Linked DNA regions of Homo sapiens. The protein of the gene in region 1 purifies or fractionates together with the protein of each later gene. This does not show direct contact. Each region holds a gene or a part of one and is shown in the gene's direction. Other genes may lie near its edges. The genes, in order: WDR49 and ARHGAP17.

The links.
Region 2: the proteins of WDR49 (region 1) and ARHGAP17 purify together in Homo sapiens (affinity purification with mass spectrometry, with the first as the bait; 2 studies listed by BioGRID). This does not show direct contact.

What each region holds. Positions count from the first base shown.
Region 1 is NC_000003.12:167,647,291-167,651,206, reverse strand, and holds part of WDR49 (cilia- and flagella-associated protein 337), read left to right. Parts: intron 1-3,916.
Region 2 is NC_000016.10:25,013,452-25,017,367, reverse strand, and holds the start of ARHGAP17 (rho GTPase-activating protein 17), read left to right. Parts: upstream 1-1,998; 5' UTR 1,999-2,106; coding exon 2,107-2,159; intron 2,160-2,489; exon of another isoform or gene 2,490-2,692; intron 2,693-2,739; exon of another isoform or gene 2,740-3,455; coding exon of another isoform or gene 3,456-3,505; intron 3,506-3,916. UniProt on the Homo sapiens protein: Rho GTPase-activating protein involved in the maintenance of tight junction by regulating the activity of CDC42, thereby playing a central role in apical polarity of epithelial cells.

The sequences.
Region 1 (3,916 bases):
TGTCAGATATTAGGTGAAGTCCATCTCCTTAAATAGCAGTGGCAATTCTTAAGTGAAAAAACAGGAAGTTGGGTCTTTGAATTATGCAGTAAATGTTTTACGTGTATTTCCGAATAAAATATCACATACCATACTAATCGTAGTAGTAACATTTAGGAATAAAGCAATTAGTGCTTATGTTCATTGTGCAGTTGTATAAATGGATCAGAATCATGCAGTGTTTCAGATCTAGGAGTCAGATTTCCTGAGCTTAAATCCCGGCTTTGCTACTTACAATGTGACTCTGTGCAAATACTTAATCTCTCTGGGCCTCAGTTTCCTTTATTTCTAACATGAGGATAACAGAGCTTTCATGAAGATTAGAGGAGGTACTATCTGGAAAGCACTTTAAAAAGTGCATGCCACAGAGAGTAAGTGCTCAATTAACATTAGATAATTGAGCTAATTATCTCATTTAGTAAGTAGAAGTTAAACCATGTGACCTCTGACAGTGCCTTGATTCTAATTCATACTTTTCTTAAAGGAAATTAAACTTCAAGTGACACTTGCTGCTATGCGTCTTCATTCCTATTAGTTGTGGAAGGAAGTGGTTAGAGCTGCAAAGACATAAATTCACATAGAAGAGTCAAAAGCATAATTGTTCTATCTCTCATTTCATATTTTCTTAGCAGGCAAAAATTCTAATTGACGTCTTGATTCTTTTCTTTGGAACAAATAAGTTACCTGGGTAGAAGCACAGAAAAGTAACTTGTGGATTTCATTTTCCTTTAAGTGATGGTGTCAAAAGAGCCATATATCAGCCTGAAGGGAGAGAAACTTGCATTATTCATAGAATCGTAAAATGGTTGTTACTCAAACTTCCCTGTAGCACTTACAATACTTAGAGAAATGACATGGTCTCTGGATGCTCATATTATTTTGATGTCAACCATATTTTACATTTTCTTTGAAACTCCAAAAGCCAACTATTGTTTGAGGAAGAGTAGCTGTGGTTTGCTGATTTTATAGGAGTGGTGAGAAGTAAAAATTTTGGTCTAAGGAAAATGGAACTTTGGGAAAGCCATGGAGCTTGATATTTATTGAGCTTCTCCTGAGAGTCTGGCTATGTAGGTTCTGAGTGTTTCTTTTTTTACATTCTCCATTGTTGATCTCTGTATGTCAATGATGGTTTAACATTGGACCTTGATCCTAGATTAATTGCTGCCCGTTTGGTCTGAGACCATAGTTTGCCCTGTGCTCCTGGGCTCTCCAGGTTAGGTCCTGAACTGCCTTTATCAGCAACTGTGTCTATATCTTCTCCTGGCACACCTGTTCTGGCCTGACTGTAAGCTGAGAGCTGGAGGCTGGCTTTACCCTGTCAGCTCCATGCTATCATTTGCCCAAGCCCTACTAAATCTTTAGCTTTAACTATACCTAGAAGCCACATGTAAAATGTGAGGTATTTATCCTTAAAGTAGGAAGGGCCAAATAGTTTTAGTGTAAGAAAGGCACAGTAAAAATCCTAGCAAGACTGCCCCAGAGACTGTGTGGTGAGAATTCTTAAAACAAATCTGTCTTGGAGGTGAATGAGATCTAAACACAATGCACTTATTCAAACTGAATCTCAAAAGACTGGAGAAGTTCAGTAGTCAATTCTGCAAGTTCTAGAATTGTGCTTAACGGGTAATACAATTACATTTAAAGAATTTTGATATTCTCATCCTTGATTATCTTTATAAAATTCCCAAAACACCTCAACAGTATCTTGGGGATTTTAGAAAGCATTCTACAGCAGGGTCTATGAACTGTGCTTGTTTGCTTCAAGACAAAGCTGAGGATGTTGATGTCCTGCCAGGCAAGCTAGGCTCTACAGGAATATAGAAAGTCAGATTGGGCCTTTTCTTACCTTTTTTTTAACTTGTCCTTCTTTCTAAACTGTCAAGCTTCCTCCAAATTTATGGAGGACCCATCCTTCTCTAGGCCTTCTCATTGCCCATTGTACCTTCACTACTAAGGTACCCAAATGAACAGGTCTTCCTAGACGTGTCTCATACTCCAAAACTATTCTTATATCTTCCTTCTTGCCTTTCTACCCAGGCACCACCATCCCAAACACATAAATAAAATTACTCATTTTTGTTTCACTCCCTTTCCCCAGAACCTTTAGATGTTCTTATCTCTGATAAAATGAGATGGTCCATAAAGTTCATTTAAAATTTTTTCTTAGATAAAACTGTTAAGGTATAAAGTTGGATATTATGCTATCCAACAATGCTGAGAATTAGAAAATATTTTTTATAGTGTATGCAAACTGTGTAAAATATATAATATCTGCAACATGACAGAGGTATTATTTCCTGTTCACATAAAGTAAAAAGCAGGTATTTCTAATGGGTAAGCAGTTGCAAGCAAGGATTCAGGTCTCAGGCTGTCCCCACCTTCCGCCTTCTACACAAGCCATACATCAGCTGGTAGCAGTGGAGAGCACTAGGGAATGTTTTCTGTGGTCCAGCTCACATCCCATTGGCCAGCACTCAGTCATATGGCTACAGGTAACTTCAAGTTACTTCAAGTCGTATGGCAAGTAGGGACAGCTGTGTGCCCAGATAATGATCTCACCCATGGTCCTCTTAGAATTTTGTGGGAGGAAAATTTCCTTCTCTCCTAATGAACCAGCATGCTTCAGTTTGTAAATTATGGAGACCTTTGTGTCTAATTGTATTTTGTGTTCTGTCTTAGCTGCCAGGAAGTTCAAAGCTAAATTTAGTGTTCAACTCTTACAACTATGCTTAACTTAGGTTTTCTGGGACAATAATCTGCTATTTTATTATATAATTCTTGTTCTTTTATCTTTGTTTTAATAGTCGGTCCTATTGCCTATGTATCTTCTGTTGTAACTGAACTAAAATTCTTTCTGGAAATCAGTGTAGGTAAAAATGATGAATAAAAATTGAATACCTTTCAAGTATAGTAAGATTTTATAAAGCACTTATGTTGGCATCATGTTATTTGATCCTTTACCAGCCTGAAACATAGGCACGGCATAAATTTTTACTTCCCATTTACAAATAAGGAGATGAAGGACTAAAAATATTCAATTGAATTCTCCCATGGGCAGAGCCAGAACTCAGAGGCAGATTGTCAACTTTGGAGTCCATATATGGCATGATTTCCACTGGCCACAAGATAACCTTCCTTTGGCATGTTGCTCTAAGGAACATGAATCCAACAGGATAAAGATTTCCTAAACAAAATGCATGTTAAGTTAATAGTGCACAGGCCCTGTGCTCTGCTAACTTGGAACTAACGCATAATCAGCAAATAATCAACAACTGCTACAATGAAATCAAGGTAGAGAAAGGGTGGAAGAATGAAAAGAAGATAATAACCAATTGCTTTTTTGAAAAATATTTTTTTCTTTCTAAAGGCATCTCAGTGGAGACTTGTGAGAAGGTAAACAGGTGAAGCTTAGTCTCACCTGTATATAGTAAAAAGTGCATTCTGCAGCCTCAGTCAATTCATCATCTGCTGAACAAAGACAGCAGGTCATACCATTTCTCACGCATTGCTCTTAGTGCAATCAAAATACCTATTTTTAATGGCAGCAGAAAACATTAAGGTGATAGCATGAAGACAAATCCAATACTACTGCAGTTGGCACAATTAGAAATGGCAGAGGAATTCTGTGGTGGTTTTATCTGATTTGTTAAAATTCATGAATAATGCTAGCAAATGGCGTCATCACCAAAACTCAAGGAAGTGAAGTTGTATCTCACTACAAATGAAAAATTTGCCTTCCAAATCCTGCTGCCTTTGTGCTGATTTTTGTGACAAGTTCTAACAGCTTCCTGCCTTTTCAAACTCTCTGTGTACTTTTACAACAGGCACTTACAAAAATTAATCTGGATCAGTGTGTGATGAAGAGTGCCTTTAGTAA
Region 2 (3,916 bases), on another chromosome or scaffold:
GAGTCTTTCTCGTGGCTGAGTTTAATTACACACTCTTGCTCTAGCTGTAAGGCAGAGCTCTCCAGGTTAGCTTCAGTGGACAATCTTTTCATGGTTTTCTCAGAGTTGTTTCTTCCAATAGCCTCTTTTCAGCTAGGGGTCTCACTCTGTCACCCAGACAAGAGTGCAATGGTGTGATAATAGCTCACTGCAGCCTCAAATTCCTGGGCTCAAATGATCCTGTTGCCTCAGCCTTTCAACTAGTTGGGAGTACAGGTGCATGCCACTGCTTCTGGCCTTTTTTTTTTTTTTAAATTTTTCATAGAGATGAGGTTTTAGTATGTTGTCCAGGCTAGTCTCATACTCCTGAGCTCAAGTGATCTTCCCATCTTGACCTCCCAAAGTGCTAGGATTACAGGTGTGAGCCACTGCACCTGGCCCCAGAAGATAATTTTTTATTTGTCTTTTACTCTATGTTCAAATTCTTCAATTTTTTGGTAGACTCTACTTTTTCAATTTGTAGAGCTTGCATGAATAGTGTTTTCCTTCTCTTGAAGTTTAGAGAGATCATGTACTGTAATTCCTGAGCCACCTTGCTGTAACAAATTTTCCAGTTCTTCAATCTTTTCTTCCTAATTGCTTAGATTTTCTTGATGCTTACAACTTATTTCCCTCAATTTCTGTTGATGAACATTCTGTAATACTGATAATTCAAGCTGATGGTCATCAGTATCCTGACTTCTTTTTTGTTTGAGCTCCTTGATGATATTAATATTTGGTGTTTGTAGTTTGTAGATTTCATTTTCATCAAAACTAGTTGTTCCTCCTATTTTATAAGTCTGAGCAATACATTTCCAATGGCCAACTGGAGACTCAAGTTTTAGAACTTCATTGGACTATCTGTTTATTTCTTGTTATGATGAAATTATGTCATAAAAACCCATGTAAGCGTCGTGGAACACTGAAGCATGATGGGTACCACATGGAATGGAGGGGATGCAGTGTGGATGGGAACCTCCGGCCTTCCCTGAATGTGCTGACTCCAGGGCTGGCTGCCGGTCCTGCAACCGATCCTGTAGTGCTTGCTTTCTTGTTTTAGGAAGGCTCATTTCTACCTCTTTCTGTTGTAATTGATGTCGATAACTTTTAGTTTGCTGCCCTATCTGAAGCTCTGATGCTTCCTAGGTCTCTCCTAGGTCACTAAAAAGATCTTGAAGTCCCTCATTCTTTGATATTAAGAATTCCAAACTGGCATCAGTCTCCTTTATCCCATAGTTAGGGAGCTCTTTCCTTTTTCTATGACATTTAGGAGCACATTTGAGATGTGGCTGATGAAAGAAGCCACATTGCTGCCCATCCAATGCAAAGAAGGGGCTTACCTGGAGCCAAGGCCACCAAACCAGGAAGACATGAGTGTGTGAGCACGTGTGTTAAGGAAAACACACATTGACTTTAATTTTTTTTTTTTTTTTTTTTTTCGAGACAGGGTCTCTCACTCTGTTGCCCAGGCTGGAGTGCAGTGGCGCCATCTCGGCTCACTGCAACCTCTGCCTTTCGGGTAAAAGCCGTTCTCCTGCTTCAGCCTCCTGAGTAGCTGGGATTACAGGCGTCCACCACCACGCCCAGCTAAATTTGTATTGTTAGTAGAGACAGGATTTCACCGTGTTGGCCAGGCTGCTCTCGAACTCCCGAGCTCAAGTGATCTGCCCCCTCGGCCTCCCAAAGTGCTGAGATTACAACGTTGAACCACTGCGCCCTGCTAGAAACAGCTTTTCATACGTTGAAATAAACGAGAGGGTGACCGGGCAGCGTTGGGGTCGGGGAGGCCAGGCGGAGGAGGCCTAGTGGTCTTCTCGCCCGGGGCCTTCTAGCTCTTCGCCCGTGTCAGGTAAGGCACTGTTAGCCTCGGCTCGGTTCGACTCGGCTCTACTCGGGCTCAGCTCGGCTCGGCCAGACCTAGAGGGCGGGCGGGCGGTGCCACTGGAAGTGACGAGGCGAGGGCGGGGCCGCCGGCCCGGGGAGCCACCGCCGCGCCGCCGTTTGGGCCGGGAAGCGATGTAGTAGCTGCCAGGCTGTCCCCCGCCCTGCCCGGCCCGAGCCCCGCGGGCCGCCGCCGCCACCGCCGCCATGAAGAAGCAGTTCAACCGCATGAAGCAGCTGGCTAACCAGACCGTGGGCAGGCGAGTGCGCCGGGCAGCACGGGGGTCGCACCGGGGCTGGGGGCGGAGGGCGGAGGGCGCGGGGGCGGGACGGCTCCTCCGCGGTCCGGCGGCTCTGAGCTGGGCCGCAGCCCCTGCCCGAGACCAGCGGGGCACGGGCCCGGGGGCTGCGCCGCGCTGAGGCCCGAGCGCCGCGCTCCAGGCGGCCCGCCTGTCTCTCAGCGCCGCCGGGCTCCCGAGACCTGCAGGGGAGGGCCGCCGCCTCCTCCGCCACACCGCGGGGTCCCCTGCCCATTGTCCCTGCCCCGGGAGCATCGCCCTCGGGGAGTAGACCCGGTCCTTCTCCTCCCTTCCCGGGGGCCGAGCCAGCTGGGATCGCTGCCCTGGGCTCAACAACGGTGACTTCTGTCCCTAACGCTGTGCCGAGCGCTGTGCTGTGGGGGGCGGCAGTCCCAGGCTTTCCCGGTGCTCCCGCTGTTTGCGAGTCCTTCTCCTGTAAGTGCATGGCGGCAAGAAATGGCTAGAGGGACATGAAAGCCAGCCGGATTTGCTCAGTGAGTTCAGAACGCCCTTTGAGGGAATTCGGAGGTGGTGCTGTCTCAAAACCAGGGCTCCTAGGAACTGGACTGCTGCTGCCAGTTCTTGACATTTAGAAATTAGGAATTGGCGGAAAAGGATTATGGAGACGCCTTGCGCCAATTTAAAAAGTCTCACCTTAGGTTTGGAAACAAATGCTTCTTTATCTTCCTTTGCTACGGTTGAAGTGCTTAACAAGAAACGTTATTGATTATTAAATGGCAGGCTAGACCAGAGTTGGTAGATCAGGTTGTCAGAACAAGAAATGATTTGTGGTTTTTGAGAGTTTCTGGAGGTGACTGTCATGTGCTGTATTATCTGGGGCTAATATTTCAAGGTCTTTCAGGGCAGCTGGCTGTACTGTACCGATTTAGTGTTTATTCAGCAAAGAGATACGAAAGTATGAATTTCTCACAGCTCTTCTTTTGATTTTCTGTTTTTAACAGTTAAGGGGAGTTTGGTTTGGCTGAAGCACGTGGGACACTTCTTTTTTTTGAGTGTATGAAAATACTTTTACTTCCTCTCGAGTTTTCTAAATTTGCTTTTTACTGTTTCATTTCCTCCATCTTTTTGCTTAGTTTCCTTGTTTAATTTTTTCGATTCCCTACCGTATTATTGTGGTGAGAATTAACTCTTATTTTCAGGGTTAATCGCTGCCCCTAAAGCCCAGACAAACCTACTTTTCTGTTATTTGCAGGAAAATTAAAGAAATAATGCTGAGAGGAAGGTAGACGTGTGGTAATGGCGGCTGATGTTTCAAGGAACAGTTTACAAGCACATGATAATTTCTTGTGAGTTTCGTACCCTTGTTAGTGTTCTGAGCAACGTGCATTGTGGAACTAGTATTTAGTAAGTGCCAAGATACATTTGTCAAATAGTCGTTTGGCTTGTTTTTACATTGTTCGTGACAGGTAAGGGACTTTCACTCTTTTTATACAAAGTTCTGAGACTTAAATCTACCAAGCTATTTAGGGTCTCTTTGACTCCTGGGTCATCTTAGAGGCTTCTCCCTTCACACTTTTTTTTTTTTTTGAGACAGGGTCTCCCTTTGTCACCCAAGCTGGGGTGCAGTGGTGCGATCTTGTCTCATTGCAGCCTTGACTTCCCTGGGCTCAAGCGACCCTCTCGCCTCAGCCACCTATGTGGTTGGAACTACAGGTGGGCACCACCACATCCGCTAATTTTTGTATTTTTTGTAGAGT